7 linked regions of the Homo sapiens genome follow. The protein of the gene in region 3 interacts with the protein of the main gene of each other region in a biochemical or structural test. Each region holds a gene or a part of one and is shown on either strand. Other genes may lie near its edges. The genes, in order: PDLIM2, MAST4, MAP2K2, SIPA1L3, RGS12, PREX2 and SHROOM2.

Region 1 (3,983 bases), on a different chromosome or scaffold from region 3:
AGCAATCCTCCCGCCCCAGCCTCCGGAGTAGCTGGGGCTCCAGGCACATGTCACAGCACCCAGCTACACAGTGATTCTCAAAAGGCAGCTGTGGGACCCTGAGACTTGTGCACCCGTGGGACCACAGCCTCATTTGTAGACTAGAACGTCAGCTCCATAGGGTCAGAGGTGTCACTCTGTTTTTCCACGATTGCATCCCCAGAGCCCAGATGAGTGTCTGACATGAAGCAGCTGCTCGACAAATATTTGCCGAAGGAATGAGCAGAGTCATCAAGGTCAGAGAAGGGAACTCAGAGCGTCTAGTCTGACCTGAGGCCCAGGGAGAGGAAGGGGGGCTGGTCCAAGTCGTCAGGCAGAGGTGGGACCGACCCAAGTGAGTCTCCCCACACCCAGCTCTGGGCTCGTGACCCACAAGCCCCATGCCCAATTCAGCGGGTGTAGGCTGGAGCCTGGGAAGTTGCATTTCCAACAAGTTCTCAGGTGTTGCCGCTGGTTTGGGAGCCATGCCTCTGTACCTCCCACACCCTTCATTTTCCTGGACTGGGGGCAACACGATGGGGAAGCTCGGGAAGGCTTGCCCTTGAGCACGTGGGTCCTGCTGAGACCACAGCCCACCAGAGGTGTCGCGGAACAGAGCCAGGACTGACACTGACCAGCCCTCTTGAAACAAGCTCATTCCTGGCTCATCTCAGAACAAAGGTTCCCCCTAAAAAATCCCCCAGCCCCAATACATCAGCCGTCGCCCGGACCAGTGTTTCTCCATCTCCCAGCATGTCGGGCCTCCTGCTCATCCTTCCCTAAACCCTCTCACCACCACCTCTAACGTCCAGCAATACTCCTCACACAGCCTTCCTTCCCCTCCCCTCCCAGAACGCCTCCTGCTTTTGTAATTAATACCACACTGCTTAGTGCCTAATTGCTCCAAAATTGTTTTGCAAGTTTGCCTTATCTCTACAACTGCATCTTCAATTCCTTAACAAGGGGACCCATGGAATATATCTCTATGGCCACAGTGCCAGGCTGGCCTCTGGGTGGGCACGCAGCGGGTCACTAGGCAGCCGCTGTTCGGAAGGCCCCCAGAAAGATCCTGCTCCTTCCTCCTCCAGAGCCTCTGGGTTCTAGTGCCCTCCCTGGCCACCCCCAAAGGCTCTGCTTTCTGGAATGCAGAATCAACCCAAAGGTAGGGCTCAGCAGCTGGGCCATATCCCCATCACCCCAAAGGCTGGACGTGCCCCCCACGCCGTCCCCAGCAGCTGCGGCCCAGGGCTGTTGGCTGCCTCACTCCCTCACCATCCCCCACCGTTGAAGAGGAGAAATACCACCCAGGAAGGGGGTTAGGCTGTCACCAGGGGCCACTGGGACCTGGCTGAAAGAGAGTCCAGGGGAGCTGGCGGGGGTAGGGGGAGGAGGAGACAGAATAAGCCAAGAGCGCTCAAGGCAGAACCGCAGTCCCACTGGGGCATCTCTGGGCTGAGTCAGAGGAGGAAGGGAGGGTGTGGGTGGGAGTCAGGCAGGCCCGGGTCTTGGAATGGGGAGGAATGTGTTCGAGAGATGCAGCCAGAGACGAAAGGGAATCATCCCAACAACAGCAGCGAAACTATTTCAGCCACAGCCCAAGAGAAACATACTGGGCAGGGAGGAAGTCAGCAGGATGGGAGGGGAGGGGGATGAGGGGAGGGGTGCAGGAGATGGACGGGCTACTGGGCACTGCTGGGCAGGTCTTGGGCACAGCACAGGTGGCCCACGACCAGAAGCATGGCCTCCCTGGCTCAGGAGCAGAGCATGCCTGTGGCCAGGAGAAGGAGGCCATGGCTGCCCAGGTGGGCCTGGCCGCCTGCAGTCCCGGGGCACTGGCAACCCACAGGAACGGGAGGTGCTTCTGTTCCTCCAGCCTGTCCTCCCCCAGGGAGCCTCACCTGTCGGCTTCCAGGGCGGCCTGAGTAGGACAGGCGGTCAGCAGCGGGGAGGCCCGGGGAACATGCCAGACTCTGGAAGCTGAAAGTGGGAAAGGGACAGTGTGTGCCAGGGCCACCCCCAGCCTGCCCAGGGAGGATGCTGCCCCGGGCTCCCAAGCAGAGCTCCTGAGACTCAGAGGAGCCAGCCTGGAGCTGGCAGCGCAGGCGACCAGGGTACCCACTCACAGGCACACTCACCTGCGGCTGATGGCTGCCTCTCCAGTGAGGGAGCTGCTAGAGGGTGGTGGTGAGAAGGGGCTGCCGGCCCTCGGGCTGAGGGAGGTTGGGCTGGAGTAGGAGGACCTTAAGGAGGACTGACTCTCAGTGTATGTCCTCACGGAGCCCTGTGGAGAGAGTGACTGTGTCAGGAAAGGCAGGGCTGCCCCGCCAAGGCCGCCCTGCCCTCGGGCCTCACTTTCATGCACCAGTGATCAGGGTGCTGAGGCTGTCAGGGGAGGGCACCAGCTTACCTGGAAGCGAGTCGCCAGCACTTCCAAGGAGCTGTCCCCATTGGTCTGCCCTGGAGACGTAGCCTGAGACCTGAGAAGGCAACAGAGGGAGGGAATGTCACAGGGGCCCTGCACCCTGCAACCCCCAAAAGAGGCCAAAACTGTTCCCAGATCTAGTTCTCAACACCAGTAAAAGCTACAGAAAATTTGGACATCCGGTTGTCAACTTTTAACTTTGTCAAACTCAAGACAAACAACTATCATCAATGACAACCATGGTTCCTTAAAAGAAAGGACAGTTGGCCAGGCACATTGACCCACGCCTATCATCCCAACGCTTTGGGAAGCCAAGGCAGGAGGATCACTTGAGCCCAAGAGTTCAAGACCAGCCTGGGCAACATAGGAAGACCTCATGACTACTAAAATTTTTTTTTAAGTAGCTGCACATGGTGGTGCATGCCGGTAGTCCCAGCTACTTGGGAGGTTGAGGTGGGAGGATCGCTTGAGCCCAGGAGATGGAGGTTGTAGTGAGCCGTGATTGTGCCACTGCCTTCCAGCCTGGGCAACACAGCGAGATTCTGTCTCAAAAAAACACCAAGGCCGGGCACGGTGGCTCACGCCTGTAATCCCAGCACTTTGGGAGGCCAAGGAGGGTGAATCTCTTGAAGTTAGGAGTTCCAGACCAGCCTGGTCATCAACAAGGTGAAACCCCATCTCTAATTAAAAAAAAAAAAAAAAAAATTTAGCCAAGCCATAGTGACGCATGCCTGTAACACCAGCTACTTGGGAGGCTGAGGCAGGAGAATTGCTTGACCCAGGGAGGCAGAGGTTACAGTGAGCCAAAATTGTACCACTGCACTCCAGGCTGGGCGACAGAGTGAGACTCCATCTCAAACGACAGTAACAACAGCAAAACCCACCCCAAAAAAAGAAAGGATAGTTTGGTTCTAAAAAGTAGAACGTACATAACTTCATCAGAAAGTTCAAACATTCAGTTTTATTAGAGAGTCCTCACATTATCCTGCCCTTTTTTTTTTTTTTTTTTTTTTTTTTTTTTCTATTTTGCCTGGACTTTGTCACTGATATCACTCAGCCTCGGGTTTGTAGATTGATTTGGGGGAAGATTACTGATTTTTTTGTTTTTTGAGATGGAGTCTCGCTCTGTCACCCAGGCTGGAGCGCAGTGGTGCAATCTCGGCTCACTGCAACCTCCACCTCCTGGGTTCAAGCAATTCTCCCTGCCTCAGCCCCCCAGGTAGCTGGGACTACAGGTGCCCACTAGCATGCCCGGCTAATTTTTGTATTTTCAGTAGAGACGGGGTTTCGCCGTATTGGCCAGGCTGGTCTTGAACTCCTGACCTCAGGTGATCCGCCCGACTCGGCCTCCCAAAATGCTGAAATTACAGGTGTGAGCCACTGCGCCCGGCCTGATTACTGATTTCATAGAAATAATCCTTTATATTTTAACCCATGGAGAAACTGAAACCCAGAGAGGGAAAGTGAGCTGCCTCAAGTTCTAGAGCCCACGGTGACTGGGCCAGCTGTGCACCCTGCCCACTGGAGGCCAGGGTGCCTTTGA
Region 2 (4,184 bases), on a different chromosome or scaffold from region 3:
GGGAAAAGGCCAGGTAAAGAAAGGGTTTTCTGAAAGGAAAGAGACAGTTGGGGAGGAAAAAGAGAATGCTGAGGCAGACTATGGTAATTGATGGAGCAAGTTCGTGAGAGAATGAGAGGAGGTGGTGGTGGTGTCACAGAGAAAGGAGAATCAAGACCCCCTGAGTGTGGGAAGATGGTGAGTGTGAGTGTAGAAGTTGGTAAGTTCTGCAGGCAAGGAAAAAGGTTGGTAGAAAAAAATAGGAAGAAGTTAAAAGAGGACTTAATCTTTTTTTTTTTTCTTTTTTTTGGAGATAGGGTCTCACTCTGTTGCCCAGGCTGGAATGCAATGGCACAATTATAGCTTGTTCACTGCAGCCTTGAACTTATGGGTTTAAGTAATTCTCCTACCTCAGCCTCCTGAGTAGTTGGGACAATAGGCGTACACCACCACACCCAGCTAACTTTTCAAGTTTTTGTAGAGATAGGGTCTATGTTGCCCAGGTTGGTCTCCAATTCCTAGCTGAAGCCATCTTCCTGCCTTAAGACTCCCAAATAGCTAGGACTACAGGTGAGCACCACTATGCCCAGCTAAAGGACTTAATGTTGAAGAATATTTGTGTACATTTTTAAGAAAAAAAGGCAAACTGTTCCACTCAGCAAAAAGTAATCTGTAAAAACCTATCCTTTCCATAATACCAGAGTAATAATCAGTAATATTTTTTGGAGGTGGAATGCATATGAGTATATTAGAAAAAAACTTACGAGTCATTATCTTTTCATGCTAAATTTTTATTTCAATGTTATGCAACTGCATAAGTATAAATATTTTGTTCAATATACAACAATTATGACGTCCATAAGGAATTTCTTAGAGAAAATAAGACTGCAAACACTTTATTGCACAGATCCTAACAAACTTTTAAGCTGGTAAATCTACAGCTGGGAGTACTACCAAGGAGCACATCCTACAATCACACAGAGACTGACCAAATAGAACACAATGAGGAGAATTTCTACCAGCTGATTGGAGAGGTTTACAACAACAAACATGTAATACATGAATGCAACCTTAAGTACTCTTTACTCATTTATAATGAAAAACATATTTGGCAAAAATGATGATACACTATACAAAATATACATAAAAATATCATTTGTAAACAAATAGCTAGTTGTGCTTTAAAGGAAATTGGACAGTTAAAAAGCAAAGGCTTGTAAACCATGAACTACCTCCCCGACAGACTTGTCCCGATGGCTGAATGTAGGATTGGGTTATGACAACTGCCAAACACAGATATGTATTATAAACGTTGAGACCAGTTTTGAAATCCATTAGTAAACTCTTGTAAAGTATATATATATATTTTTACAGCTTCACAATATAGTGATGGGGAATGGCTAAAACCATATGGGAAAAAAAAATTAGGGGCAAGGAGGAGGCTTTTTTCTTTTTCTTTTTTTGTTTGTTTTTTTCCTTTTTCCCAAAGCCAATTCATTTTACAACGAAGGACAACTGAGCAGTCGGTTAAGTTATGCCTTTGTTTTCAGAGTGGAGTTTATAGCCTCACTAGAAGATTTACAATCCATAAGGCCATAAGATGATGCTGTGCTTAGATGAACAATTTTATAGCGTGAAGATACTAAGACATCCCCCAAGAGAGTTTGGGTGCTAGATCAGTTATTTATTGGTAATTTTTTTTCTCTTACAAAACCAAACAAAAAATTCTGCTATGGTTCCCAAGCAACTTATAAATACTTATCTGTATTTTCTCTTAGTGCCTTAGTATTTATATCAGCAAGTGCCATCTTACAATACAAAACAAGCCACCAAAGAAACTGCAACAACAGAAACAAAAACAAGAAATCAAAAACCTTCAGCACTAAAATGATTTGACAAATTCTACATATTCCACGGTATACAAAATTTAAATAAGGCTTAGCAAAAGTAAAAAGGATGGTCACATTCAAGCACCAAATAGCTCCAGCGAGTCTCTTTGTTACAAAAATGCTGCTCTGTATTAAGACAGTATTTTTTGCATACAAATAAAGAGATCAGGTTATGAAATGTGTGGAGCTACTAGATGCAGCAGAAATGAATGTGAAACCCAGGAACTTGCTAAAAACAGCAAGCTTCATCTACAACATAAGGCCCCAGCTATGTATTAAAATGTATCTGATGTCCTGATTATTCTTTAATCGATATGCTACGATGCCAAAATCCACCCCCAGTTCTTTTCCTCAAAAAAGCAAATTTAAAACCTCTTCCAATGCCTGATGCTTATTACTCAAGTACTAGAAGATTTGGGTGCAGCCAGTAATTTTCCTTTTTATTCAAGAGCAGGGCTGGTGCAGGACTACTACAAAATGTGTGCTTCTTGGACTAGTCACTCACAGCATAAAGGCCTGAGTTTAAGAGTTTGAAAAGAAGGAAAAGAAAGCAAACAGAAAGAAAGTTGATGTGTGTTTATAGTCCCCGCTCTACCTCAGGTGAAGGCCAGACATCCACATCCACAGAAAGGAACAACTGGCCTTTTAGACAGTTGGACCAGGGATCCAGTGTCCATTGGGATGGCCGTGTAATGAAAATGGCTAGCTCCACTTGTCCTGGCCATTCCTAATGGAGGAGGATTCCAAATGCAGTACTTAGAGTAGTTCTTGCTTTAGATCTGGAAATATAGGTAGCCAGATACAGTACTATCAGAAACTCTGGTTAAAATACACATAAAAACTCAGAATCTACTGTGTTTAGGGCTTTCTTCCATCTTAACTTAGAATGTTTTAGCTTATAAAAATGGAACCTTGAAATAGTCTCTTAAACCACAGACCAAAACATGTAGGTGGATGTGTATATACACGAATATGGGTGTATCTCTGTTCACACACACCCAGTTTTGACCATTTTGCTTCATTACTACATTATGATAAATGGTAAAGCAAAAATCTTATTTAAAAAAAGCTGTAGTAAACGACGCAATCAGCAGCCAGGTATAGACTCTACATCCCAAACCAAACACGATGCTATATATTTACAAAGAAAATCATTTTCCTCAACAACCCTCAACTGTAAAGGTAATTTTTTTTTTTTTTTTTTTTTTTTTTTTTGTACAAACACTATCTGGTAACAGTTTTACCGGTTACAACTGGGAAGGCATCTGGAAGAAGGTCCCCTCTTTGTCTTTCTCTCTCCCCTGTCTCAATGAGGCTCCGAGCTCTGCCTGGCGGACATTCCCACACAGTGCTGGTTTTGAAAGGTAGTCAAGACACAGTCGCCCGTTCAGGACGGGTCTCCACAGTCCTGCCCCTGGGCCCTCCCCGTTACAAGGCCTTTTTGTGAGGGCTGCTACGCAAACTCTCTTTCCCCCGCCTCTGCCGTACCACAAAGTCCTTCTCATTAGAAAGAGAGATGGGGCGGTCAGTGTTTGGGGCTGGGGATGGCTTGGTCACGTCTCTGCCCACGTTCTGTTTCCTAGCTGGGGGAGGCTGGGCTGGGGCAGGGTCCTTCCCTTTGGTTTCCCCTACGGTGGCAGTCACCGAGAGAGCCCTGTCCCGGTGGCTGGCCCCGCCCATGGTGTTTGGGTCGGGGTGGTGTGACTCCAGAGGCAGGGTGGAGACCCGGAAGGAGGGCAGGGAGTCACTCTTTGTCATGTGGGTTCGGCCCTCCCCGGCAGGCTGAGCCTTCCTATGGTCCCTGTTGCTGGGGGCTGGAAGCTCCAGCATGCCCCCGGCGGCCTTGGCAGAAGAGGTGTCGCTGCTGGCTGCAGAGGCCTCTCTAACTCCGGCCCTGGTTTCAGGGAAGCTGGAGGAGCAGCTCAGAGACTTTTCCGGGAGGGCCGTGGATCGGAAAGAACTCTGCCCAGTGGCTGAGGGGGACCGTTTCATGCCATTGGGCTTGTCTGCCTCCGTCGGTGGCTTCTGGGGACCGGGCCCTTTCCCTCTGGCCTCAGGGAAGCCCTTCCCCACCCCCGCGGCTGGCCGCTCCGCGCCTTTCAACCGGTTCTCGCTATGCACAAAGGAAAGGCCGGCCTCGAGCTTGTCGCCCTCTGCTGGAGCATAAAGTGCTTCAGTGCATTTCTTCCCTTCCGCCCTTCTGTCGGTGTTGGCGGCCGGCTGACTCGGGCTTTTGTCTGTCTGTCTGTTGTCTGTCTGTTTGCACAGGGTGGGGCAATCTTTCACAGTGGATGGTTTGGGGTGCTTTGGAGACAG
Region 3 (3,983 bases):
ACCCTGTCTCTACTAAAAACACAAAAAATTAGCCGGGCGTGGTGGCGAGCGCCTGTAGTCCCAGCTACTCGGGAGGCTGAGGCAGGAGAATGGTGTGAATCCGGGAGGCGGAGCTTGCAGTGAGCGGAGATGGCGCCACTGCACTCCAGCCTGGGTGAGAGTGTGAGACTGTGTCTCAAAAAACAACAACAACAACAAAAACAAAAACCAAATTACCCAGCTGTGGTGGCACATGCCTGTAGCCCCAGCTGCTTGGAAGGCTGAGGCAGGAGAATTGCTCCCGGGTGGGAGGCGGAGGTTGCAATGAGCCAAGATTGTGCCATTGCACTCCAGCCTGGGTGACAGAGCAAGACTCTGTCTCAAAAAAAAAAAAAAAAAAAAAAAAAAGAAAGAAACCTGGTAGGCACTGCTAGAGACAAAAACCTAAGAGAGAATTCCAACAGGAAGGGGAGATCTGGCCGGGCGTGGTGGCTCAGGCTCACTGCTAGTGGAATCCCAGCACTTTGGGAGGCTGAGGAAAGAAGGTCACTTGAGTCCAGGAGTTCATGAGCAGCCTGGGCAATACAGCGAGACCCCGTGTCTACAAAAGATTAGTAAATTAACAAATAAAAAATAAAGAGCAAGGGGAATCCGAAAAGCAGGCTCCCAGGAGGCACCAGCTTTAGACGTGCCTTGTGGCAAGTGGGGAGAGCTGATGAAGGGGAGGGTGCAGCTGGGGTGGGACTGTCCCGGGGGTGCTAACAGCCATGTAGGAGTGTGTGCCCACGAAATAGTTGGGAAAGCCTCGTGGGAGGCGGGGAGAGCTGCGCAGGAGAACTGGGAGGGACAGCTGCGCAGGAGACATGGGGGTGAGAGCTGAGGGGGAGAGCTGGCTGGCAGAGCTGGGTGGGGAGAGCTTGGGGGAGAGCAGCAGGGAGGAGAGCTGGAGGGGAGAGCCAGCGGGGACTCACAGCCATGTAGGAGCGCGTGCCCACGAAGGAGTTGGCCATGGAGTCGATGAGCTGGCCGCTCACCCCGAAGTCACACAGCTTGATCTCCCCTCTAGAGTTCACGAGGATGTTGGAGGGCTTCACATCTGGAGGCGGCAGGCTGCGGGTGAGGGGCGCCCAACAGTTGCCTGCCGGCCCCCGGGGCTCTGGGGAGGGCGGGCTGGGCCTTACCTCGGTGCATGATCTGGTGCTTCTCTCGGAGGTACGCCAAGCCCCGGAGAACCTGCAGGGGAGCGCGGAGGGAGTCACGGGACAAGGCCACCAGGGCTTAGCTCCTGACCGAGCCCGGGGGTCAGAGCTGAGCAGTCAGAGCTGGAGCGAGGGAGCTGCGGCAGGAACCATTTCAGGCTGTGAGGAGCTCGCTGGGGTGGAGCAAGCGAGGCCAGAGACGAGACAGTGCTGACAGCCCTGTGCTGGCGTGTGCAAGTCAACCCCGGTTCCCATGGCCGCAGTGCCGCCGATGCCACTACTGCCTTTGATTCAGAGCACACGGCTTAGCCCCAGGGAAGCTGAGATGGTGGCCCATGGCCCGGGAGTAGGCTGGGCTGCCGAGTTTGCCCACATCAGCCTGAAAGGCAGCATCTGGGGTCCCAGGGACTGTGCTAAGGGCCCCCAGATGGGACGGGCTAAGGGTGCCTGGGAAGGACGATGTTTCCCCCAGGCCCGCCCTGGAAGCAGCATCCCGAGAAGTGAAGCAAGCAGCACAGGCAGTGTGACGGCAGCTTTCAACTCGGAAACGCGTGTCTGGCAGCATGCGTCCTGTGTCTTAATCCAACACTGGTATGGGCAGGCGGGACTCGGCCCCTGCTATGGACAAGGTGCAAGCTCCAAGAAGCAACACGCACGGTCTGCTGAAACCACACGGCTCTACGGAGCAGCTGTGCTGGAGACCGGGCAGCAGAGACGCCCTTGGCCCCGGTGACATTTCTAACAGCAATGGTGAGTGTGTCTGGAGGTCCTGGCGTCCCACATCCCACCCCAGAGTCTCCCTTTCAACAAGCTCCTGTCCCCTGCAACGTGCCAGCTGCCAACATCCCCCTGCCACGAGGGGCAGAGGGGACCAGTGTGGCAAACAGAGGATACTAAGAGTGAAGAGGGACCTATAACGTCTTCACTTGGCAGATGGTGACCTCAGGCCCCAAAAGGGACGTCACTTGTTCAAGCTCCACAGCAGGTGGGCACAGCCTTGGCCACTCTCTTTCTGCAGGGGCCACCCTAACCCCCACCACACTGTGAGTGGCTCCCGGAACCCTGGCCGTGTGGAAGAGGTCCGTGCAGAGTGCGGTGGGGGCGCGATGTGGGTCTGCGGTGGACTCACCGCGATGCTGACTTTCCCCAGGATCTCCTCGGGAATCCTCTTGGCCTCTTTCAGCACCTGGTCCAGGGAGCCGCCGTCCTAGAGGGCACACAAGGAGTGAGTGCAGGCTCTGCGCAGGTGGCCGGGAAGCCACGGATGCGTCCCCCCACTCCCGGCGAGGGGGTGGTCTGCCTCCTGACGGGAAGCAGGGGCCGGAGCCCAACTCCACCCACGGGCCAAGGGCAGGGCGTCTTCTGACAGTTCTGCCTTTGGGTCTGAACACCCACCCACAAGGTGGGGAAGGAACAGGGCCCAGGGTTCCCCCGCCTCCCGTCCCATCCTCGAATCAGTTGCGTGACTCGGCCCTCCTGAGGTCGCCACGGCAGAGGCTCTGCTCCGGGCCAGCCCAAGCCGCGGCCGGGGGCTCAGGCAGCTGTGGGGCCCGCACTCCCTGCAGCCTACGTGGTGGGCTTGTCTGTGCGCCACGGGAGGCGGCCAGGCTGGAGACCAGCGTCTTGGGCCTGCGTCCTCTTCCCAGCACACGAAGGGAAGGGGAGGGTGAGGGCGCGGAGGAGACGCGGGTGCTGCCCCGCGTGGGAGGAGGCGGCGGGTCGCTGTGTGCCCGTCCAGACCCCCAGGGGGCTCCCTCGCCAAGCCCTGCGGCTCCACTGCTGGGCGTCTGCCCTGCGCCTGTCCCTGCCACCTAGGGCAGAAAGGCCAGGCCGAGTAGGACCAGGGGCCAGGGGGTGCATGGACTGCAGGAGGGATCCCAGTGACGCCAGCCCAGGTGACGGTAACCTCGGCCCCTCCCCACAGCCTGTGGTCTCCTCGCCACTGTGCCGGGCATCCTGCGGAGGGCCTGGAAACGAGTCATCATGGGTAGGCTGGTCCCCGGGTGTGGCCCCACATCCATGTCATAAATGATGAAACAGAAATTCCATGTCTTGCCCAAGGCTGCCTGGCAACAAACCTGGGGACCAAAACCCCCAAATGCCAAAACCCCAGGCACTGGGAGCCACCCAAGGTGCCTCTTCAGAGGCAGAGGCTCCGGACACACCTGCCAGGCCACCCCCAGGACAGCAGGGGTGACAGGCCAAGTTCCCACTGCCACCGTCTGGCGTGCGTCTCTTCTGTGCTCAGCAGAGAGGAAAGTGGAACTGAGGCTAGAGAGGGCGGGCTGGAGGAGCCTGGAGAGGCTGGCTGGGGAGCCTGGATTTCCCCACCATGCTGCTCCAGGACTCCTGCAAAAGCCCAGCCTTCCCTGGGATGGCTTTCATTCACATGGGTGGGAGGAGCCGGGGGAGAAATCCTGGGACTCAGGGGTGCCCGGGTTGCCGCTCTCTGGCCACTTCTGCCCAGCTAGGCTTGGAGAGAAAGGCCGAAGGCAGTTCTAGAAAACCCAACACGCTTTGAGACCTCTAAAGCATACACGTGACTCCATCCACCAGCTCCAGGCTGAAGACGCAGACACACAGGGTGAGAGGGCAGGTATGGCCAGGGCTCAGACAGCCCAGGAGGAGGTGCCAGGACGGGAGCTCCAGTGAGCCAGGGCCAGGTGGAAGCTGCTTCTATTCTCAGTTTTTATCAATCTACCTTAAAAGAATTACTTAAAATGAGGCCGGACATGGGCTGGGAGCGGTGACTCACGCCTGTAATGCCAGGACTTTGGGAGGCTGAGGCAGGCGGATCACTTGAGG
Region 4 (4,491 bases), about 34 Mb from region 3:
GGATTTCTCTTGTGTCTCCATAATCACCCAACCTGACATGGAATAGGTGGTTAATCCATTTTTGTTGAATGAGTGGAAAAATGTGCTCTCCCAGGAAGAAACATATGCTTCCCAGCTTCAAGTGTTAGTGAACATCTTCCTAGAAGGCAGGCTGAGGCGGAAAGGGTATTGACTCCGGCTTCTCCACCAGAGGACCTTGCAATTCCAGTCAATTCCCTCGGTAACTCTTATGGAGGAGTGGCAATATACCTTAAAAAAGGAGTGTGTGTTGCGGGGTATTCCGCTGCTTGGTTATGTCACCAGGTGGATTAAATTTGGACAAAATTTCCCAAGGTGTAGGTACTCTACAAACACTAGTTACCCTCAGGAATGTGCGATCAACAAAAGAATGCAAGATAACAAGGCCCCTAGGCAGCCCCTGGGTCTTGTGGCTCCCGTCGAAGGCAGAGCTCTGGAGCCGCCTACGCCGGGGACAGGCGACTACACCTGGGGCCCCTCACCCTCGGGCCTCCTGCACGTGGCAGGGAAGGCAGGGCGTCTCTATCTCAAAGCATTGGCTGCGCCTGTTACCTGCGACAGGATTCCCGACAAGGGACGGGTACGGCGTGTGCACTCAGGAGCTCCTAGAGCTAGGGGCAGCAACTAAGAAGCTACCTGGCGGATGTTGCGAGAGGACTCCGCCCACAGAACGGTTGGCCCCCAACCCCGCAGCCGGCGGACTTCCCGAGGCCAGGGGTCTGAACGCGCGTGCGCATGGGCGCGCGCCCGGCGCGAGAACGCGCGCGCGCTCTCGAAAGAAAAAAAAAAAAAATCCTCTCCGCGGGGTCCCGCGGCAATTTAGGCCGGGGTCTGCCGACGACCGCGCGTGCGCGGGCGTGCATCTACGCCCTCCTCCACCGCCCCCTCCGCTGGGGGTCTAGCGCACTGCTCCGCTTCCCCCGTTTCCCCCGGGCTAGCGTCCTAGGGGTAAGTGACTCGAGCCTGGCAGAGAGTGAGGGAGAGGTTCCGCCGAATGAAGGGAGGAGGTAGACGGGGCCAGGAGAAAGGAGAAACCGCCCCGGCGGGGCGAAGAGCGCGGCTCTCGAGCTGTAGTCTGCAGGAGACACACCTCCCTCCCTCACGCCCCTCGGGGCTGCGGAAGTGCTCTACAGACTGGAGCTGCACGAAGGCGACCAGCGGACTACCGTTCCTAGGAGGCAGCGCGGCGGTGCGCCTACGGCTCCCGGCAGCCCCCGCGCGCCATTCTCTTTTTGAGTTCGCGGCCGGCTAGGGCGAAACTACAGTTCCCAGGAGGACTCGCGCGAAGCGGCTTGGAAGTGGGCAGCCTGGAAGTCACTCGGGCCACCGGAGCTGGCGGCGTCTCCAGCGAGCGGCGCGGAGCTGGACGCCGCGATCGTGGGGCCCGCGAGGCGGGCAGCCGGGGCGTCCAGGTACGTGGCTCCGGGTGCAGGATCGGCCTCGCGCAAGGGTGGCGGGGAATCGGTGGCTGCCCGGACCCCGAGGGTCAGCGCGGGCGGACGGCCGGGTGTGGGTACTGGCCGTGGGGGGCGGCGGCGCCGGGACTCGCGCCCTCCGGACCCAGCCGGACTCGTGCCCGCATGGCTCAACTTTCCAGGCGTGCACCCCGGCGCTGTGGTGAAGAGCTTGGAGGCGGGGAGCGGTGGATTCGCGTCCCGGCTGTGCCACTCGGGAGCCGCGATCTGGGAAAACCGCGCCGAACCTCAATTTCCCCTGCAGTAAAACGGAGTAGGAGAGCATCTTGGCGGAGACTCTGTTGAGATAATATAATAAAACATTTGGCACATAGGAGGCACTTACTACGTATTTGGGTTATTGTTAGCTCTCCGAAAAATGAGGTGAAGATGTTATCGATTGCATAGGGTGAGGATTAGTTGAGCGTGTGCATGTAAAGAGGTGAGTCCTTAGTTAGCACCCAATGCAGGCTAGCTGCTGTTAACCGAGATTATTTTGTTAAGAGCGTTGGTTTGGAAGGCAGAGAGACCCCAGGTTCAAATTTGAACATTTACCAGCTGTGTGACTTTGGGCAACTGGCTTCACCTCTCTGTGCCTTGGTTTCCCTATCTATAAAATGGGGATTTAAATAGCAACCACTTCGTCGAGTTGTTTTCAGGATGCAGTGAGAATACCATGTGTAAAGTGCTTAGCACAGCAGCTGGCATATAACGCTCAGTAAATGGTACCATTTATTCAGCGTTTTCCTAGTGGCCCAGAGACCCTCTGAGGGTGGGGCTCTGGCCGTAGTATTGGTCACCCCCGAGGGCCAGATTCAGAACTGGTCCAGTTGACTTCCCTTCCTACTACCTCAGGTTCCTCATTTACAAAATGGGATAATAACAAGATCACTCTCAAAGGGTTGTAAGGATTTGCTGAGATTGTATTTCTAGTCCAGCGCCATCTCTCACTAAGTAGCAGCTCTTATGTATTATAATTGTTCTTCAATATTCTCCATCTGGCCCAGAGACTGCCTGACTGTGGGCTGTGACATGACAGCCCTGAGCTCCCCCACACATTTGCTCCCATCCTCAGTGTCCCATCTGTGGAATGGTAGTCATAGGACTTTTGTGCCAGGATTGTTTGGATGGTTCCAGGAGATAATTCATGTTTAGTGCTTTGCACAAGGCCCGGCACACAGTAAGTGCTTATTAAATGATTAAATGTATCTTGCTGTTTTTTTTTTTAATAGGCCCTTTTTGCTTCTGTTTGTACCTACATGGCAGAGTGAGCACAAAGTTAGTGTTTTTTTATCTTCCCCCTCCCTCCCAAATTTTACTTACCAAAGATTAAATTATGGAACACACTATAGTAGAAAGGCCTAAGAAGAAATGGGTCTGACCTGCCATCAGCAGTCCCCTGCTCACACACCCCTCCCCACAGAGCCAGTATGTTCACTCCAGTGCTTTAATTATTGTCCTGGTGCTGCCAGCTTTTGCCTTTGTGTCCCAAAGCCACTGAGTCCCCTGCACTCCAGCTCCAGATGTGGAGCCTGTGCTTCTTTGATGCTGTGGCTCAAAGAAGTGGCTGTTTCTTGGGCACCATAAACTCAGCATGTCCAACCTGAACTCCTTCTCCTCCTGGAACCAGTAGTCACCATCTTGGCAAATGTGCCAGCATTGACCTGGTTGCCTAAGCCAGAAACCTGGGAGTTGCTCTTCTTCCCCAGCCTTCCCATATCCAGTCAACTAGCAAGAAGGACGAAGCTGCCATTTCATAGAAACACCATTTCATTGGCCCATATTGGTCTCCCATCTGATGGGCACTGAAAGTTCCCCTCAGCTTGAGACGGAGTCTTGCTCCATAGCCCAGGCTGGAGTGCAGTGGCACAATCTCAGCTCACTGAAGCCTCCGTCTCCCGGGTTCAAGCAATTCTCCTGCCTCAGCCTCCTGAGTAGCTGGGATTACAGGTGCCCGCCACCACACGTGGTTAGTTTTTTTTTTTTTAGTAGAGATGGGGTTTTCACCATGTTGGCCAGGCTGGTCTTGAACTCCTGACCTCAGGTGATCTACCCATTTTGGCCTCCCAAAGTGCTGGGATTGTAGGGCATGAACCACCGCGCCTGGCTGTGACAAGGTTAAGTCAAGTCATTAGGGATTAACATACGTAAACCTATGTAACATATGTATTAATAAGGGCAAGAAGATGTTATAGACTTGGCTAGACAGCAGTGGCTGTGGATGTGGCATGAAAGCCTGGCTTTCAGGGGACCCAGTTCTGTGATTTTAGCCTGGTAAAGATCGGCTGAGTTGTTAATTTCTTTCAGAAAAGTTAGATGGTGTCAGCGGCTTAGAATATCCCGTGTGGGAGGGTGGCCATCCTGGGCATTTCAGGAGGCAGCACACATACCACACACCCAAGAAGAGGCTGGGAAGGGAATTTATTAGCGCTCCCCTTAGGTTGAGTTTATTGTCAGAAACCTGTCATTGTGATTTCATTTGATGATAGAAACCGGTGGCCTCAATCACATTTGTGATGGCCAACAAATTTACCTAAGCATTTTGCTAACCTGAAGAAGTAAAGCAGTGGCTTAAAAAAAAAAAAAAAAAAGCAGCACGTGGCTTTTTAGCAGTCAGTGTAGAATGAATGATCTAAGAGTTAAATGTGAGTCTGTGTTTCAGACATTGCAGTTGTTAGGTGGTAAATCAAAAGTGGAATTTAGAATGTGCAGTGATTGGTGCCTCATTTTTTTGCTGTAAAATATATTTTACTGATATATTTCAAACATAGTCTTAGTAACTTGTAAAATGTAAATTAAATGTATTTACATTTTAATAAAAGAATTCAATAATCATTTCCTTTAAAATAAAGTGTTTGTTTTTAGCTATTAGAATGAGAGGCTATTTGGCAGGGTGCAGTGGCTCATGCCTGTAATCCCAGCACTTTGGAGGCTGAGGTGGGTGGATCACTTGAGCCCAGGAGTTTGAGAGCAGCCTGGGCAACATGGCGAAACCCCATCTCTACAAAAAATTAGTCAG
Region 5 (3,983 bases), on a different chromosome or scaffold from region 3:
AGGCCTGACGAGGGCGTCAAGCCCGCAGGACCAACGAGTCTGCTCCACTGTCGCCTTCACACAGGTTAACTTGGAAGACAAGGGAGCTCTAAGCTGGTGGAAGCTATCAAGACCCACGACAACAGATATGACAAGATCTGCCATCGCTGGGAAAGCTAGCTCTGGGACCAAAATCTGTGGCTCACGTTGCCAAGCTGGAAAAGGCAAAGGCCACAGAACCTGCCAATAAACTGGGTGAAATGAACACTGTTGAGTTTTCTGTACATCAAAATAACACAAATTCTCCTTCAATAAAAAAGGGGGCATTCTCTCTCTCTCTCTCTCTCTCTCTCTCTCTCTCTCACACACACACACACACACACACTACTGACAAAAATATAAACTAGAAAACCTCTTTGGTGAGCAATTTGGCAAACTTTAAAATGCACATACACTTTTAAAAACAGCAATTCCACATCTAGGAACCTACCCAAAAGAAAACTCACATATATACAAAGATAGAACTTTAAGAATTTTTACTGCAATCCAGCTTATTATTAAATATAGAAACAGTCTAAGGTTGCCATCAACTGGGGACTGATTCAGTAAGAAATGGCACAGGCATATGACATAATACCACGTGGCCACTACAATGAAGAAGAGTTTTTAAAATTGATATATAACTATGTACATGAGAAATTTGTTTTAGAAAAAAGTAACTCACAGCAGTATGTCACATGTATTTTCAATAAAGGGAAGGAAAAGGAAGAGAATATCCAAGAGCCTGTGCAAACAGAGTAAGTCCATGAAAGGAAGCGAACTCTGAACTGCAGCTCCCCGCGCGGAGCGGGGCAGAGGCAGCAGCAGCATCTAAGGCTCTGACTCTTACAGTGCTGTTCGCATTGTGTCTGTGATTGTACCTTTGGGTATGTCGTCATGAACAAATGGTGGAGAATGAGATGATGAGCACCCACCAACACACTGCACCGCAAGAAATAAAACTGCACCAACACGAGCGAGGCGCCACGGCACCCCTCCCGGGAGAGGCCCCCCAGCCTGGTGCTTGCTCGTCCTCCCGCTCGCCCCTGGCTTGTCCTCCCACCGAGGGGCACGCGCCACCCTGGACAGCAGACTGCGCTGCTCACGGGCTTGAGGCTTCTGTATTTTGCCTTTTTTATGAGCGCGATTTTCAGATGTACTTCAGGTGATGCAGGTACCACTATCTCACTCAGATGTAGCTCTCGGGTACTCCAGTACACCCATAAGGTATTTCTCCATTCTCTGTTAATGGTCTTATCTCAGTAAGCAACAGTTGAGAAGGAACTCACTCCTGCAAATCCAACCTTCTGCGGGCAGCAGTCCTCAAGTGCTGTGGTCTCAGGACTCCTGGGAGTACCTACAAACGACTGAGCACCTCAGCGAGTCTTTATTTTTGTGGGTTTCAGCTACTGATGTTTCTCATACCAGAAATTAAACTGAGGAATTTAAAAATATGTATTCATTCATTTCAAAATTACACCAATCAATCCTTTACATATCACAAATAACATATTTTCATTTTTAAAATTTCCAAAATCCATTGTATGGAAATTTTAAGAATTTGGGTGCTGCTACTTAACCAGGTATTTTAATTAATTAATTTAATTAATTAATATAACTTTGAGTCAGTTTGCAGAGACACAGAATTAAACACGCTTGCCTTAAATGAAACACAAGGCAATCATTTTTGATGACAGAAGCATTTCGAGATCCTGGGTTCTCTTTCACATCAGCCCCTTTTGTTAGTCACAGGCCTGAATGCTTATCTCCATGAGAACCAGCTTGTGCTGGCTACAGACATTAGGCAGAGACAAAGAGCAAACTACACAAAAGGGAAAGCAGTCCACTTCCAAACATCATCTCACCCACTTCAAGAATTTCAGACCCTCAGCGAGTCTACAAGTAACTCAGCTCCCCTTCCTTGCTCCTCCCCAGAGGAGGGAGAAGCTGACAAGGATGAGCTGGCACAAGGTCACCACGTGGCTCGGTGTGCAGGGGGTTAGAGCTTTCCATCTCACCAAGGAGACGTAGAAATGCCGAGCAACAAGGGGTCTGGCTCGCTGGTCCCCAGGCTTTCACAGGAGCAAGTGGCCACTGAGGGCGGAAACCCGGGCTGAGCCTGCAGACAGCAGGATGGAGGCGGCAGTGACAAAAGCGTTGGCAAAGGACAACAATGGAGAATCTGGTGGCAGTTAGGACACAGAACTATTGGCCTTAGAGACCAACTTGTGACTAGATGCAGTATTATATTTCTTCTAATAGTCAGCTTATTTTGCATACAGATTAAGAAAGGCTGGTGCCAGTAATTTCAAAGGGAACGTTTAACATTCATAGAACTAGTAATAACTGTGTAGAGGGAATGCTGAAGATTGTTCTAGGGCTAAGGGCGAGTGCCTAAGCCAAGGACACCGTCAGCAGGGGCCCCTGCCCAGGCCTGGGCCTCAGAGCGCGCTGGACACCACATGCCTGCAGTCCACTGGGGGGAGGAGCTGACGTGGCTGTCCAGGCCGGAGCTGCTCCACAGCCACAGAAAACCCTGCCCTGGGGTGCAGGCAAGCCAAGGCGGACTCAAAAGCAGAAGCTGGGAGTGAGATGCCCTTGGGGGTGCTGAAGAAGGGTGCATACAGACGCTGGGTAGCCTAACGGGGCACTGTGCCAGACACCAAGGCATTTCTTCTCAGCGCCAAACCCACCCTGCCGTGCCCAGCTTCTGATCCTGGCACTGGGCCTTGAAGACCACATGGCTCCTGCCCAGGGGCTCAATGTTCAGCAATGGGCACAGGCACTGCCTCCCAGATGGAGTGGGGTGGACTGGCATGTGAGGGTCCCACATCGTTTTTCCTGGGGACTGGGGACAGCCACCAATCCTCACCTGGAGCTGCTTCACTCTCTCACAGCTGCGATGGACTCACAGTCCTGTCAGATAAGGCCCCTACTCTGGGTATCTAAGCCTCCCACGCCCACTTTTCTAGACTCAGCCCCTTTCCACACTGATGACCTTAGCCTTTCTTTTCTCTTTCAGCAGCTAACCTTCTTTTCCTTTGTTAACGATTCTGTATACTGAATTTTTCCTGTTCAAATTACTGCTGCGTTTCCTGTCTCCTGGCTGGATCCTGACTGATTCCACCTGAGTTTGTGCAAAGTAAAGCCCTGAAGTCCCCGTCACTAAGAATCCGGAGTCACGTGAAGCTCGCTGCCTGACACCATGGCACCCTCCAGGGGCCTCCTCTGCTCTCTCCCTCCCTGTGCCAACTCTGCTGCTTCTTCTAACTTCCAGGCACTTCCTGCATCCCTGCTGGCCCCTTCTCTCAGCACAGGCCAGCGTCCAGGTGGGGCCCTGATCGCTGCGGACGGTCACGGCCACCTTCGAAACTCTGCAGACCTGTCCACGGCGACGTCCGGACCCATCTTGTGGCCGCCTCATGACCCCTGGAAGCTTCTGCTGCTCTAACTGGGGAGGCTATGGGATCAGACTCACCTAACTACACAGGGAGGCCCACTTGGCAAAGTAAACAGCAACACTTAAACCTCAAGAGATTACAGCAGGAACCCATAAAACACAACACGTTACTACCTGTTTATTTTTAGATAGTGTATCACGCCACATTATGAAGGCCACTCCAAATCCCACACGGAGCGCCAGGGCTGTCTTGGTCCCAGCACTCACATGCCCTGTGACTGTGAGCAAGTCACCTGACAGCCAAACCTCAATCGCCTGGCCTGATGGCCTCAGGATTCCTATCAAGGTAAGGATGCACTCTGCAAAGCAGTGACCGCCACACCGTTATTTCCAACCCTGAGGACATGCTAGCTCCCCTTCTGCTCTGCTCCAGTGTGGGTGGGAACAGCCAGGACCCTCATCTTCACTGCAAAGAAGCCCAAGGCTGGCATCACAACCCCACCTATTCCCCCATGTCACCCGCCCCAAGGAGGAGTCCATTCACTGGTGGGATGGGGACGACAGC
Region 6 (3,983 bases), on a different chromosome or scaffold from region 3:
CGATCATGACTCACGAAACAAGAAATTATCATCAATGTATTTGTTCTACCAATAAAGACACCTCATGTAATGGTAATACACTAAGTCACTGTCAAACTTTACCATGCCTTTTCTAGGCTGTACAAGCTGTGCGAGCCACCTCCCCCAGCTGGAGAAGAATGAAAAGAACTCCCAAGAAACCAGGCAGGCAGAAGCTCCTGAATGCTGGACTAGACAAACTACATGCTGGCTAAACATTCTCCACTGAAGATACATCAATGCTTTTTTTTTTTTTTTTTTCTGTAAATCTTTCTTCCCATTGCAAACAAGTAGTGATCAGTTTATACTTTGATATTTATGCTGGAAATGGATAGAAGTTCAATCAGACAGTTCAGCTTCACGAACTGATGTCTCTCTGTATTGACATTAAGTATTCACTTTTAGAGTAAAATCCATCCCTGGGACATAAAGAAAAAAATATTAGAGATTTAAAAATTAACCACCATGCCTCCTCTCCCATTCATTAAAATGGTTTTATTATGCTTGTTTTCATCTTTCCCAAGTGGACACATGTAATAATGGAGAGTTCCTCTTGAAGAAGGCCATTATTGAAGAAACCTGGCGACATCTTGCAAATCATCATGAGAAATGTTAAGGACAATATAGACTGTGTGCTATACATTTTCAGTCCCCCATTTGCAAGAGAGAAAGTCATTAATGTGTAAAAGGTGGAAAAGCATGCTTTACTCTTTCTCCTAAGGGCTTATTTCTTATTAGAGGAGAAGAAAGCTGACTAAGGCCTCCAGCAGGACTCACTTTCTTCTAGCTGCCTTTGGGCATCCTTTATTCTTGTGGACAGCTCTAGCAAATCAATGCTATTTTTGGTGTCTGCAATGGGCATGGCTTCCTTGGGCCATGAATACTGGGTGCTGTGCCATAATGGCCCTGGGGATCAGGGAAGTGCCCTGGGGATCAGGGAGGGGAACCAGGATGAAGAAGGGGACTGTAAGCCTATTTTAAAACTAAACCTTTAAGTTAGATACCTAAAACTCTTAATTTTATGAAGGCTCTCATATGAGAGGTCAGACTCTTCAAAGAATACACCATCATGAGAATTTTTCTGTTAAGATATATGTATAAGATATGAAAATAAGGCTTTATTTGTACTTTAAAAGGACCATTAGGGGACTTGTAATTTATGGATGCACAAGGTGTATTCTATCCTTATTCTAAAGTATATGTAATGTTTATCATTTCTACATTGATGCAATAACATTGTTTTTAGCATAGTAAATACAGTAATATTTATTTTAAATCCATAATTTTCAAACAAAACACTCATGATTGTGATAATTATATGGGTTTACACTAATTTAGTATGTGAAATGCTTTTCATATCTAAATTATGTGCAAACTATTATTAATTTTTTTTTTATTTTTTGAAACTGAGTCTCACTCTGTTACCCAGACTGGAGTGCGGTGGTGCAATCTTGGCTCACTGCAACCTCCACCTCCTGGGTTCAAGCCATTCTCTTGCCTCAGCCTCCCAGGAGCTGGGACTACAGGTGTGCACCACCATGCTCAGCTAATTTTTGTATTTTTAGTAGAGACGTGTTTTCACCATGTTGGCCAGGCTGGTCTTGAACTCCTGACATCAAGTGATCCACCCACCTCAGCCTCCCAAAGTGCTAGGATTACAGGCGTGAGCCGCTGCTCCCGGCCCATTATTAAATTTTAATTTATGAAATTTGATCATGGTTTTCAAACTATTATTAAAACCTTTATCATTAACCATTATGTATTGAATAACAAAAATACCATGTTACATGTGTAGGCAATATGTGTATACTACTAGGTAAGGTAATAATAATTGTTATTTGGCACAGAAGCTCTAGAGACTTTTGTGAGAAGTCCATATACAATGAAAAACAAGGAACCTAACATCAGAGTTTTCAAGAAAAAGTTGAACATTTTGAATTTAATAAAGATATCTTTACAAAAATAACCTTCAAGGATTTAACATTTGTAGGACTAATAAAGGAACACAGCTGATTAGCTAGCAAGTCCTTTCATATTGTCATGACTGTTTTCTCATCACCATCCTGGAAGCAGTAATCCTCATTAGAGGCATGCAAGGGTCATTAAAATGATTTCAGTTGTACTTTGCCATATTTCATGGGGCAAATTATCAGCTATATTGTGGTATTTATAAGCTAACATATTTTATATTTTTAAGGATCTACTTTCTTCATAATAGAATGTGCTTCATATTATTTTTAGGGTTAAACATAAGTGTGTCGTCTATCATGCTTGGTACTTACTAAATGCTCAAAAATTAGTAATGGTTTATATTAACATCAGTCACTCTAACTTCTGATCGTAATAAAAATTGTAGCTAACACTTATTAAGGGATTACTACATGCCCAGTAATACCTCCAAATGCTTTGCCTGTATTCTGTTGTTATTGCTTCACTTAATCCTCATAATAATGACGTGACATGGTACTCTTTTTATCGCGCCCATTTTTAGAGTTGAGGAACCAAAGCAAAGAATAACCCAGTGACTTGCACAAAGTCACATGATTGACAAGGGGTAGAACCAAAATTTGAACCCAGGAAGTCTGCCTTCTTAATGCATTATGCTACTTTTCCTTATCAATATAAGAACTATTGTAATATTACGATGATTTGTAAGTAAATTTGGAGTTATGCGGCATGTGTTGTCATTAAATTATACATCTTGTATTAAAAAACGGTGAATGGAAATATGTAAATGCTTTAATTATATGAAAATTATAGTGTTTCCTGGACATTTTACAACTCTGGATGCACATTTTGAGGTAACTCAACAGTGTTGCAATCTGAAAAACTATTTTGTATCATGTTCCTCCTCATCAAAAATAACAGTTTTAGATAGTACATCTCATACAACTTTATTATAATTCCAACACAGTGGTAAGAGTAAAAAACATACCTAATGGATGAATGAATAATGACAATTTTTTCAATGCCATATGTACCTCCATGTGACATTGGGCATTAAATGGCCTTGAGGTTTTAGGATGTGTTTACCTTAATGCTACATGCTCCTCTATAACCAGTGCACCTTCAAATACTGCTAAAACCTGCTAACTTCTTCCAGGTTCTGAGCATGGACAACTCCCACCGCCCCCCAACCTAAAAGGGAAGGTCATGCATAGAAAGTTTGGATTTTAACTTAGAGCCTGACTCAAAAATAATTGTGAACTAAAAATTCATAGTCAATACTTTTTAAGCATTCTATTATCTCCTATAATTTTTTCTAATATTAATTCCAAATATTACAAAATTTAATGTGATATTAAAGTATGAAAAATTTGAGAAGATTAGAATTTTACATGTATTTCCATTCCTATTTAAAGAGAGAAAATGGGGAGATAATTTCTGTGCTAGTTTTACTTATATTGGATATATAATATTGAATTTATAGTATAAGCTTTATTTTATCAGTTCGCAAATCTGAAGTCTCATACTGTTTTCTGTCTCTTTAAAACACATTCTTCTGGTGGCTTGGGTTCATTGTGCATTCATTGGCCACTCTTCTTGCAGCAAATTTTAAATCAATTTAAAATTAGGTAAACTTTTTATGATACTATAATATATATGACGTTGAAATGACATTGGTTCTGAGTCTATTAATTTAAATTTTGGGATCATTACATTCAGAATGAAATGAAATTGACCTTGATACTAACTTTGAGAGCCAAAAAAATGAATGGGTAAACAAAGCCTAAGGGTCATGTTAATTAATTTAACAAAACACACTATTTTCAGTCCTTTGGGCTTGTACATTTTATAGACAAAATTAGCATTTATTGATTTGGAAGTGTTCAATTGAGAGTAAATGACTCTGTGTTTTGAAACTAATACCTTTGCATTTAAAATACTGAAGTATTATTTTGTTAGTTGAAGTAGATCTTTTCCTGTGTAGCATGATTTAATGCAGAGCAGTTATTCACTTATAC
Region 7 (4,628 bases), on a different chromosome or scaffold from region 3:
GCCCAGTGGAGCTGCGACTCTGAATTTAATCGGCTGCATGAGACACCTCCACAGAATGCACCCCTCTCACTTGACCTCTGAAGAAACAGACCAGAGCTGAGATTTCTTGTCCCAGCTTGACAGTGGCAGAACCCAGACCCGGGGACCCTTGACTCTCTGTCCAGTGCTCTCCCGGCCTGTCCTGGATGCGTACTCCAGCATCGTCACCTCTGAAAAGGGCCTGGATGGAGCTGCTTAGAGAAAAGAGGTGTTCACCAGCCTTCAGCTACGTATAGAAACAGCAACGAAAACAGCTTTTTTGCAAAGCATGTAAATACCTATCCATGCAGGTACTTTAGACCAGAGTTTCATGGAAACTGAAACCGAGCAGGAAGAGGTGGCACACATGTTGTCCGCAAACTTTCACCAATCCCAGACCTCCACCTCCCCTTTTCGGGGATGTAAACCTGGGAAACTTGAAGACCTTGTGGTCCAATCCTAGGCGAGTGGGGACAGCATCTAGACGCAACGGCTTTCTGCGCGGTGGCTGTGGGAGGCCTCTGCGGGAAGGTGGGAAGGCCCTCGTGGAAACGGGGCACGGTCCTTCTGCGCCCGCCTTCCAAGCCCCTCCAGAGGCCGGACCCGCGCCCGGCTCAGGCTGCTGGGGGGCGCCCTTCCCGGCTCTCTAAGTCCAGAGTGTGAGTGCGCGCAGGGCCGCGCGGGACGGGCGGTCCCTCTGCCCCGGGGCAGCGGCCACAGCGCGGGCACCAGGGCCTCCCGCGGCGCTTCCGCTCTCACCTGCGCGGCAGCCCGCGGTGCGCGAGAACAAAGTGTGGGCGCCGGCGGGCCGCGCGCCCCGAGACGGAGGAGGCCGGAGACTCCCGCCACGCCACCCCGCGCCCATCTCACCTGCCGCCTCACCTGCCCGGTCCTGGCCTCCAACCGGCGGGCGGGGGCGCCCAGAGCTTCGAAGCACTGCAGAGCTCTGGCGCGGGAGGAAAGGCCCGACCTGGCGCCGGGGCCTCCGCCCCCGTCCTCGCCCGCGCTGGCTCCGCCAGCCCCGGGGCGCGCGCTCCTCGACCCCGACCCCGAACCCGCTGAACGGCGCGCGCGCCTGAGCGCCCCTCCCGGCCCGCTCCCCTCCACCGGGCGAGAGAACCGGGGCGCGCCCCTCTCCAGCTCTCCCCGGTACGAGCGGCCGCGTGGGCCCCTGAGCGCGCACCTGACCCCGTCCCTCACCCTTCGGGCCGCGGGCTGGACCTCTGGACGCGCTCCCCGTGACCGGCCCCGCGGTACGAGCTCCCGAACGCGCCCGCCCCGCCCCCCGTCGGCCCCGCCCCCTCCCCGCCAGCCCCGGCCCCGGCCCCGGCCCCGGCCCCGCCCCCTCCCCGCCAGCCCTCCGGGCTCCCTCCGCCGCCGGGCCGGCACTTTCTTTCCAAGTTACGGCGCAAGTTCTGCGGCGCTCGGAGCCTCCCTTGCGATCCCACGGCCGGGACTGCCCGGAGTGCATGGGCGCGGGCCAGGGACGCTGAGCGGTCGCGCCATGGAGGGCGCCGAGCCCCGCGCGCGGCCCGAGCGCCTGGCCGAGGCCGAGACGCGGGCGGCGGACGGCGGGCGCCTGGTGGAGGTGCAGCTGAGCGGCGGCGCCCCGTGGGGCTTCACCCTGAAGGGCGGCCGCGAGCACGGCGAGCCGCTGGTCATCACCAAGGTAAGGCGGCCGCGGGGCGCGGGCGCTGACAGCCGGGAGCTGGCCGCCCTGCGGGGCGCGTCGAGGTAGGGGCGCGGGAGGGGCGGTAGGCTCGCGCCCCCGGGTCTGGCGCGCGCGTCTGCTGGGGTCACCTGCCGGGCCTGGGCGCCGGGACCGGCGTGGGCGTGTGATCCTGGCGGTTCCCCGCGCCTCGCAGAGTTTAAATGGCTCCTGCCCGGAGTCCCTTTCCCCTCCCCCTCCCTCCTCCGGGCAGGGGCCTGGCCGGGTCCTCTGGCGCTCCCGGGCCCGCCAGTGGCGGCCTGCACCTGCGGGGCTGCCTGGAGGCCAGCGAAGGAACGTGTCCCCGAGCCGTCCCCACCTATGTTTGCCTCTCTGGGGTCCCTGGTTCGGCACCCCTTGGACCCGTGCCTGTGATCACTACGAAATCCAGAGTAGCAGCTGTCGCCAGCGCAACTTCTCGATTCCCTTCAGCCCATCAATGTTTACTGACTTTCGGCTTCCAGTCCCAGATCCACTGCGCACTGGATACCTGCGCAAACTTAGAGAAACCTGAAAGCCTGCTTCCTAAGAGCAGGACCCGAGTTCTAATAATAATAAAGAAATTCCAGATGTATCTCATCAGGAATGTTGTGTGTGTGTGTGTGGTTTGCTTTAGAACATTGAATTTTATTGTCTCAAAACAAAATCCATCTGGAAACTTACCAGTTGAACCTGTATGAACTTGTAAAAGCAAACACATAAACAACAGTCCAGTCACCCTGTGTTCTAGTTAAAAGTGTGTAGTGGTCATTTTCTCTGGGAAGGGTTGAGTCGGACCTTTCGTGTGGACGAAGTTCCTTTTAAAATGTAAAGATTCTTGGCGACTAGAAGCGTTTGAAGATAATTTACTGGTTTTCTCGGCTTTCCTGCCTCTCCACAGCAGGAAGAAATTAAGTGATTCCTAACCCGCCGCACTGGTAATCAGTTTGGGAAGTGGGATGGCTTTGTTGTTCAAATAGCAAATGAGACACCAGCGTCTTCCATTCTATATTTTCTGTCGCTTTTATGATTACAAAACTTTGTGGAGGGATTTGGAGAAGCCTTGTTTAGCTTTGCACTAAATTTTTGTTGAACTCAGGAAAGAGGTTGCCATTGTTATAAATTTGACCAATGTGTAATCTTTTATCACACTGGCTTCTTTGGAAACATGGTGGACAGTCATAAAGTGTGTATACTCTGCCCAGCCAGAACACTCCTCTTTTTTTTTTCTTTTATTTCTTTTCTTTTCTTTCTTTCTTTCTTCTTTTTTTTTTTTGAGACAGGGTCTTGTTCTGTCAGCCTCCTGAGTAGCTGGGACCACAGATGTGCGCCACCATGCCTGGTTAATTTTTTAAAATTTTTTGTAGAAACGGGGAGTTTCACCATTTTGCCCAGGCTGGTCTCGAACTCCTCTGCCTCCCAAAGTCCTGGCATTACAGGCATGAGCCACTGCGCTTGGCTCAGAATGTGGATTAATCCAAGCTTTGAATCTTCCTCTCCCAAAAGCTACTGAAAAGTCACTGGGGCTCATTAAAAAATAGCTCTTCTAATCGTTTTTTTTTTTCCACTTGTAATTAAATAGTTACATATTAGAGCCCTGGAATACTGTACAACTCACTTGCTATTTAGCAGACTCTGATTTGGGGATAGCTTGCATTAAGGTAAGAGCGCACCTTCTCTTTATGATAATGAGGGTATCATTTGAAAGCCTCATGGGAGTGCGTGTAGTAGAACTGGGAGGGGTGTCAAGAACAAGGCTGGTTCGGTCCTGGTCTTCAGATGGAATTTTATCAGCCCATTTTATAGATGAAACAGCTGTGGCCCAGGCAGGGCAAATGGTGTATCCTGAGGTCACAAACTGTTGAGTCCTGGGAAAGGCCCTAAGAATCAGACTCTGGCCCCAGTGTTCAAGCCTGCTGCTCCCCTTCAGTCAGTGCCATCTGCTTGGGTCTGGGATCTCCTGCAATGCCATATTGAATACCTTCGTCACATCGGTTAGGTGAGGGTTTGCCAGCCTTGGCATTGGGGACTTTGTGAGCTGAATCTCTTTGCTGTGGGGCTGCCCTGTGCTTTGGAGGATGCTCAGCAGCCTCCCCAGCCTCTACCTGCTTGATGCTACTGTCACCTCTCTCCAGGTGTGATGACAAAAATGTCTCCAGACATTGCCAAATGTCCTCTGGGGGCAAAATTAGCCTGGTTTTGAATCTCTTTTGTTAGATTAACCATATATCACCTTTGCTCTTAAAGGATTCTTGCTCTTAAAACTTCTGTTTCTTTTTGAATAGACTGGCCTTTAGGGTGGTGTGTTTAGAGGCCTCTGGCATTGCCAGTGTTTGCATGGAGAGCTGTTTTCCTCCCACGCGTTGGCCCTGAGAATAGGCTTTATTTACATAGTCAAACTCAAACAAATACTTGCTTCATCTGCATTTTTTGTAGCTGGAGAAAGGAAATTGAAGCAGGAACTCCCAAGTGCTGTGTTTTATGGGCATCCACAGTGGCTGTTCAGAATCAGGACTGACTACTCTCTGGGTCTAGTTTGAAGCTAAAGGGATACCAACTTCAGAGGAGTAGCATTCTTGGAATTTGGGGTGCATGCATGAAGCCCAGCAGAACCTCCGCTGACAGATGGCGACAGGATTCATCACTCCTCAGTACGTTTCTGCTGATTTCTGCCTTGAAATTTTGCTACAGTTGGTGGAAAAAATGCACTCAAACCCATATTTCCATGCTGTTGTTAGAGAGGGGGCAGGAATAACATCCATGCTGTAGGAATCTATGTAACGGAAGTAGAGATGGTGGATATATGTGATCCTGGTGGGTTTTTTGCATGTTTCTGTTCCCATCCATTCAACCAGTGGAAGTCTTCAGTGGGGGGAGGGGAGGGGACTGATTTCTAAAATGTCACTAGAGTGGCTTGAATTCC

The links.
Region 1: the proteins of MAP2K2 (region 3) and PDLIM2 interact in a test that uses a peptide from one of them, tested with the Homo sapiens proteins (one large-scale study listed by IntAct).
Region 2: the proteins of MAP2K2 (region 3) and MAST4 interact in a test that uses a peptide from one of them, tested with the Homo sapiens proteins (one large-scale study listed by IntAct).
Region 4: the proteins of MAP2K2 (region 3) and SIPA1L3 interact in a test that uses a peptide from one of them, tested with the Homo sapiens proteins (one large-scale study listed by IntAct).
Region 5: the proteins of MAP2K2 (region 3) and RGS12 interact in a test that uses a peptide from one of them, tested with the Homo sapiens proteins (one large-scale study listed by IntAct).
Region 6: the proteins of MAP2K2 (region 3) and PREX2 interact in a test that uses a peptide from one of them, tested with the Homo sapiens proteins (one large-scale study listed by IntAct).
Region 7: the proteins of MAP2K2 (region 3) and SHROOM2 interact in a test that uses a peptide from one of them, tested with the Homo sapiens proteins (one large-scale study listed by IntAct).

The regions. Positions count from the first base shown.
Region 1 is NC_000008.11:22,583,333-22,587,315, reverse strand, and holds part of PDLIM2 (PDZ and LIM domain protein 2), read right to left. Parts: intron 2,496-3,983; coding exon 2,426-2,495; intron 2,300-2,425; coding exon 2,154-2,299; intron 1,996-2,153; coding exon 1,917-1,995; intron 1-1,916. UniProt on the Homo sapiens protein: Probable adapter protein located at the actin cytoskeleton that promotes cell attachment. Necessary for the migratory capacity of epithelial cells. Overexpression enhances cell adhesion to collagen and fibronectin and suppresses anchorage independent growth.
Region 2 is NC_000005.10:67,166,164-67,170,347, reverse strand, and holds the end of MAST4 (microtubule-associated serine/threonine-protein kinase 4), read right to left. Parts: coding exon 3,297-4,184; 3' UTR 755-3,296; downstream 1-754.
Region 3 is NC_000019.10:4,100,069-4,104,051, forward strand, and holds part of MAP2K2 (dual specificity mitogen-activated protein kinase kinase 2), read right to left. Parts: intron 3,139-3,983; exon of another isoform or gene 2,749-3,138; intron 2,386-2,748; coding exon 2,308-2,385; intron 1,213-2,307; coding exon 1,161-1,212; intron 1,076-1,160; coding exon 951-1,075; intron 1-950. UniProt on the Homo sapiens protein: Catalyzes the concomitant phosphorylation of a threonine and a tyrosine residue in a Thr-Glu-Tyr sequence located in MAP kinases. Activates the ERK1 and ERK2 MAP kinases.
Region 4 is NC_000019.10:37,905,929-37,910,419, forward strand, and holds the start of SIPA1L3 (signal-induced proliferation-associated 1-like protein 3), read left to right. Parts: upstream 1-1,279; 5' UTR 1,280-1,430; intron 1,431-4,491. Other genes in the region: WDR87 (WD repeat-containing protein 87), read right to left, coding at 655-755. UniProt on the Homo sapiens protein: Plays a critical role in epithelial cell morphogenesis, polarity, adhesion and cytoskeletal organization in the lens.
Region 5 is NC_000004.12:3,320,232-3,324,214, reverse strand, and holds part of RGS12 (regulator of G-protein signaling 12), read right to left. Parts: intron 291-3,983; exon of another isoform or gene 1-290. UniProt on the Homo sapiens protein: Regulates G protein-coupled receptor signaling cascades. Inhibits signal transduction by increasing the GTPase activity of G protein alpha subunits, thereby driving them into their inactive GDP-bound form.
Region 6 is NC_000008.11:68,231,217-68,235,199, forward strand, and holds part of PREX2 (phosphatidylinositol 3,4,5-trisphosphate-dependent Rac exchanger 2 protein), read left to right. Parts: intron 1-116; coding exon 117-162; 3' UTR 163-3,983. UniProt on the Homo sapiens protein: Functions as a RAC1 guanine nucleotide exchange factor (GEF), activating Rac proteins by exchanging bound GDP for free GTP.
Region 7 is NC_000023.11:9,785,024-9,789,651, forward strand, and holds the start of SHROOM2 (protein Shroom2), read left to right. Parts: upstream 1-1,405; 5' UTR 1,406-1,522; coding exon 1,523-1,687; intron 1,688-4,628. UniProt on the Homo sapiens protein: May be involved in endothelial cell morphology changes during cell spreading. In the retinal pigment epithelium, may regulate the biogenesis of melanosomes and promote their association with the apical cell surface by inducing gamma-tubulin redistribution.